2 separate regions of the Homo sapiens genome follow, and region 2 is linked to region 1. Evidence: fine-mapped expression QTL. A gene starts in region 1. The other region holds a variant in brackets. All regions are shown on one strand. Distances are between the middles of the regions. Region 1 holds the start of OR4D1 (olfactory receptor family 4 subfamily D member 1). Region 2 has its middle 21 kb from the start of OR4D1.

Evidence for each region. PIP is the estimated chance that this variant, and not a neighbour inherited with it, causes the effect. A credible set is the group of variants that fine-mapping cannot tell apart.
Region 2: its variant is the best candidate, but not a certain one, in a credible set for the expression of OR4D1 in T cells (TOPMed, PIP 0.56).

Annotation. Positions count from the first base shown.
Region 1 is chr17:58,147,047-58,149,967 of GRCh38, forward strand. It overlaps OR4D1 (olfactory receptor family 4 subfamily D member 1), which reads left to right and starts at 1,338. Exons shown (of 4, transcript NM_001386095.1): 1 at 1,338-1,538; 2 at 2,383-2,750.
Region 2 is chr17:58,126,066-58,128,986 of GRCh38, forward strand. No RefSeq gene overlaps it. Among named protein-coding and RNA genes, the nearest start is that of OR4D1, 21 kb to the right of the region's middle. The variant T/A (reference allele first, on the strand shown) is at 1,458.

The DNA of each region.
Region 1 (2,921 bases):
TAAAAAACCTCCCAACCAAGAAAAGTCCAGTACCAGATGGCTTTAGTGGTAAATTCTGCCAAACATTTAAAGGAGTATGAACACCAATACTATGCAAGTTCTTGTAAAAAAAAAAAAAAAAAACAGAAGCAAAGGGAACACTTTTTAACACATTCTATGAGGCCAGCATTATCTTGATACCAAAGCCAGACAAAGATACAAGAAAAGAACTACAGACCATATTCTTTATAAATACAAATGCGAAAATTATGAGATGCCACTTCACTCTCACTATTCTAAGTAAGATGGTTATTCCTCAAAAGATTAGGCACAGTTGCTATAAAATCCAGCAATTCCACATCTAGCTATATACCAAAGAAAAATGAAAGAATACATCCACACAAAATCCTATACATGAATATTCCTAGCAGCTTTATTCATAATAGCTAAAAAGTGGAAAGAACTCAAATGTCCGAGAGCTGACTGACTGATTTACAAAAGTGGTATATCCATATGATGTAATATTATCCAGTCATAAAAAGGAATGACTGGTACATGACTAGTACTGGTACATGCTACAGTACAGATGAAACTTAAAAACATAAGTGAAAGAAGCAGGACACAAAAGCCATATATCATCATATGTGTGTTATATGATTCAATTTTTAGGAAATGTCCAGAACAGGCAAATCCAGAGACAAAAAGTAGATTAGTGGTTTCCAGAGACTGAGGAGAGAACAGAATGGGCAGTGACTGCTAAAGGATATGAGATTTCTTTTCAGAACGAAGAAAATGTTCTGGAATTAGGTAGTGGTGATGGTTACACAAGTTTGTGAATATACTAAAAACCACTGAATGGTTAAAATCATTTAATAATTGTGAAGCTTATGGTAGTTGAATTATATCTTGAGGATGAACTTAGCCAATTTACATTGAGAGTTCACTTTGGCTGAGAGAAGAGCAGATCAGAGATTGGGATAAGAGATGGTACCTTAATGACTGTACATATGAAAAAGGCTTTGGAGTTTATAGAGGGGGTGACCTGGACTGTGTCCTAGGACATAACTCACTTTTCCAACTACAGTGGTGATAGGAGAGGGTGGAGGCCTTGCACTGCCCATGGTGCTGAGGGATTTGGTTCTTGTAAACCTCCCTGGGAATTCACGTCTCTTTAGGGTTCTTATCCTTCTTCATCTTGGTCCTTTGATCAGTAACTCTGAAATGTTGGCCCCAAGACAGTCTCCCAATAATTATGTGCATCTGATGCAACATCTCACATACTTTTTAATAACTCCCATTGCTCATTTGCCCTTAGCAGCCTGAGCCAGGCTTTATCTTATGAATTAAGCCTAAGTTTTACTCCCCAAGGAATTTCCCTTTCCTTAAGGCCAATCCCATATGTGTTCCTTGTCTGAGAGAGGCCAGGAGAAGAATGGAGCTACAGGAGAAGAGTGACCTGGGAGATGGGAGGCTCTAAGTCCTCTTGGCCACTGTGGGCTGGAGGAAGGTGATGGCCTCATTGTCCTTCCCATGGACAAATCAGCACGACAAAGCCTATCGTGAGACAAGCATGGGGTGGAGGGAAGGCATGGGGGAAGTCATCAGGCATTAATGCAAGGGGAACGGGATTTGGGAAACATTGATTTTATCTAACATTAAGACTTTTGTCTGTATTGGCTTATGTGCTGGGTGGAATTTAGAACAGAGGGTGGGAGGGAGAGCGGAATATAGACATACACTGTTATCTCCCCCGCCTCCCACATACATACTACAGCTTCTTCCCACACCTAGGAGAAAACACAAACAGGTCTTGCTCTGACACTTTCCACCCTCTACTGTTCCTTTTTAAGTCTCATCTTCCTCCATCTTCCCCCTTCTCCTGCCTGCTTCTCTCACTCACTCCAGATTTTCTTCCCTTCTTTATTGCTGTCCCTCCATCTTATCCTCTCTTTTCTTAAATCTTGTGTTTAACAATACCTGTTAATGCTCCCTGGATGACAACAGACTAGATTCTACCCCATTTTGGGAACCCACTTATTCCTTCTCCCCTCGTCTCTCCTAGTCCTGTGTGGGCTGATTTTCTAAGAGCAAAGACAGATGGGAGAGAAGATTGAGTAACAACAGAAGAGGTCTAGAATCCTCCCCTTTCCCCATACAGATCCATGTCCCTCCCTATGTCTATTTTCTTTCTTGTCTAGAATCCCTCTAAATCTATTTTCTATGCATGTAGGGGGAGGAAGCATTTGCAAAGATTCTGATGGGTTTGTGGAAAGAATCGGGCCATGCTAAGATGATGCTTCTAGGATTGTAAATCTGGTGATGCTGGGAATTAGGATTCTTGGATTCTCTTTGAGGTCCTATAAACTGCATTCTATCCAGTGGCTACTCTCTCTTTCTTCCCAGCTCTCACGGCAGTCTGGCCCATCCCAGCACCCTGTCCTCCATTAAGCAATCACACATTCTTTTGGGAACCAACTATGAGAAAGGGTCTGTGTGTACCACGTACTGTGTAATACTTAACATATTGGATTTGCACTGAAATTACAACACATGTGAGGAACAGAGCCATCCTCATGAAAAAATACCAAGGCATAGCAACATTATGGAAGAGCTAATTACTCTTGAACCTTGAAGGAAGGGTAGAATTCAGACAGGTGAACAGGACAGAAAAGCAATTCAGATGCGGCACTGACTGGATGAAGGCACTGAGACCTGAGGGACCGAAGAAGAGATAAGTTTGGCTGAAGCTGAATCTTCTTAGAGGAGAGCAGGTAAGAGGAGAATAGTCATTAGGAGTGCAAATTCTGGGTCAATCAGACCTGGCTCAGAATCCCAGCTCTGCTTCTTCTTCTCCATGTGATCTGGGAGAAATTAGTTAACCTATTCAAGCCACAGTTTACTTATCTGTAAAGTGGAGATAATTTATGGTACTTACTATACTT
Region 2 (2,921 bases), 21 kb before region 1:
TCATTTTAATTTTGAATTAACATTCAGTAAAGTTGACTTTGTAGACAATTTTATAATTTTTTTTTTTTGAGATGAGGTCTTGCTCTGTCACTGGAGTGCAGTAGAATGATCACAGCTCACTGCAGCCTTGACCTCCCAGGCTCAAGCGATCATCCCACCTCAGCCTCCCAAGTCACTGGGAGGCTGCCACCACACCTGGCTAATGAAAACAGTTTTTTAAATTTTGGTAGAGACAGGGTCTCAGTATGTTGTCCAGGCTGGTCTCAAACTCCTGGACTCCAGCAATCCTCCTGCCTTGGCCTCCCAAAGTGCTAGGATTACAGATGTAAGCTACCGTGACTGGTCACAGTTTTATGAATTTTAACACACGTTGATTTAGGTAAGCACCACAAGATACAGAAGAGTTTCATTACCTCCGAAAACTCCCTCATGCTACCCCTTTGTAATCACACTGTCCTTCCCATCCCTAAGTCTTGGCAACCACACATCTGTTCTCTATCACTATAGGCTTGTCTTTTTGAGAATGTCATATCAATGGAATCATACAGCATGTAACATTTTAGGACTAACTTCTTTCATTCAATAATGCCTTTGAGATTCATCTAAGTGGTTGCATGTATCAACAGTTCATTGCTTTTTCTCACTGAGGAATGTTAGGTTTATCTATTTACCACTGAAGGACATGGGGTTGTTTCCAGTTGTTTATTGTTGTTTTGGAAATTATAAATGGAGCCATTACAACTATTTATTTACAGGTTTTGGTGCGAATATAAGCTTTTAAGTTTTCTAGGGTAAATACCTAAGAATTGTTGTCATATTATAAAGTGTATTTAACTTTATAAGACTGCCAAACTGTTTTCCAGAGTGGCAATATCATTTTGTAATCCCACCAGCAATGTCAGAGTTCTAGTTGCTTCTCATCCTAGTAAGCACTTGGTATTGTCAGTATTTTAATATTTTTAAGTATGTGTGGGGGGGGTGTTTGTTTGTTTGTTTGTTTTTTGAGACATAGTCTCACTGTGTCACCCAGGCTGGAGTGCAGTGGCGCGATCTCGGCTCACTGCATTTCCGCCCCCCGAGTTCAAGCAATTCTACTGCCTCAGCCTCCCATGTAGCTGGAATTACAGGTACAGGTGTGTGCCATCACATTCAGCTAATTTTTGTACTTGTAGTAGAGTCTTGTCATTATGAACTGGTCTTGAACTCCTGGCCTCAAGTGATCTGCCCGCCTTGGCCTCCCAAAGTGCTGGGATTATAGGTGTGAGCCACCGTGCCCGGCCAAACTTTTATTTATTTAGTTTAATTTTTACTTACTTATTTATTTGTTTGAGACGGAGTATCACTCTGTCACCCAGGCGGGAGTGCAGTGGCGTGATCTCAGTTCACCGCAACCTCCGCCTCCTGGGTTCAAGAGATTCTCCTGCCTCAGCCTCCCGAGTAGCTGGGATTACAGGTGT[T/A]TGCCACCACACCTGGCTAATTGTTGTAATTTTAGTAGAGACGGGGTTTCACCATGGTGGCGCGGCTGGTCTTGAACTCCTGACTTCAAATAATCCACCCATCTCAGCCTCCCAAAATGTCGCAATTACAGGCATGAGCCACTATGCGTGGACTTTTAAACCTCTCTTTCTTTATAAATTACCCAGTCTTGGGTATTTCTTCACAGCAATATGAAAATGGACTAATACACCTTTTATTTCTTTTTATTACCTTAATTAACTGGCTGAGAATTCCAGTATGTTGTTGAATAGGAGTAATGAGAGTAACCATCCTTGCTTTTTTCAATCCTCACAGCATCTTACACATGAATGTTTATCCAGGGATCTTTAGATATTTGAGGAAACCATCTGAAAAACAGGTCAATGGGAGTCGTTATATTATTCCCTCACTCTTTTATTTTTCTCTTTTTCTCTCTTTCTTTCTTTCTCTCTCTCTTTCTTTCTTTCTTCTTTCTTTTCCTTTCCTTCCTTCCTTTCTCTTTCTTTATTGCTTTTCTTTCTCTCTTTCTTTCTCTTTCCTTCTTTCTCTCTCTCTCTCTCTCTCTCTCTAGATAGGGTCTCACTCTGTTATGCAGGCTGAAGTGCAGTGGTGTAATCATAGATCACTGCAGCCTCAAACTCATGGGCTTAAGTGATCCTTCCACCCTAGCCTCCCCAGCAGCTGGGACTACAGGCATACACCACCAGGCCTGGCTGAAGGTATTTCTTAATTTTCCTTTAGCATCCAGTTTGTTCTTGATTAATCTGAAGCTGTTATGCTTCTTGTTATTTTGTGGGTGGGTGACCTATTCCTTATCTCTGGAGACTTTAAGGACCTCGTTTTTATTCTTAATGTTTTGAAATTTTATGAAAAAGTGCTTAGTGTGGATTAAATTTCTTCTGATGATGTTTTTCAGTCTGAGAGACTTTTATTTCTTTGATAATTTTTTCACCTTTTTAGTTGCCATTCTTTTGGGAATTCCTACTGAAATAATTTCTAAGCCTCTTATGTATTTTCTTCAGTTGCTTACCTAATTTTTTATTCTACATTCAGAAGAGATTTCCTCAACTTGATTTTCCAATCCCTCTGTTGAAGTTTTAATTTCTGTAAACATATTTGAATTCCCAAAAGCTCTTTTTTTGTTCTCTAGTTTTTAAATATAATTCCATTCTTAATTTATAGGTATTATATCTTCTTGCTTCTCTCTAAAGATACTAATTACATGAACTAAAGGGTTTTTTGTAAAGGTTTCTTACATTCTCTGTATCATTTTTGTTTTCTTCTCATTCATTTTTCTATTTATTTTGTTTTTGCTTTTTAATGTTGAAAGCCTTTCTTAAATGCCTGGTTATCTTTGGTTGCCTTTATCCATTTAGGAGGAAGGCACTAAAATTAGATTAGAACTTCTATATATAGGCAGAGCTCTTATGCTGATGGACTTCACT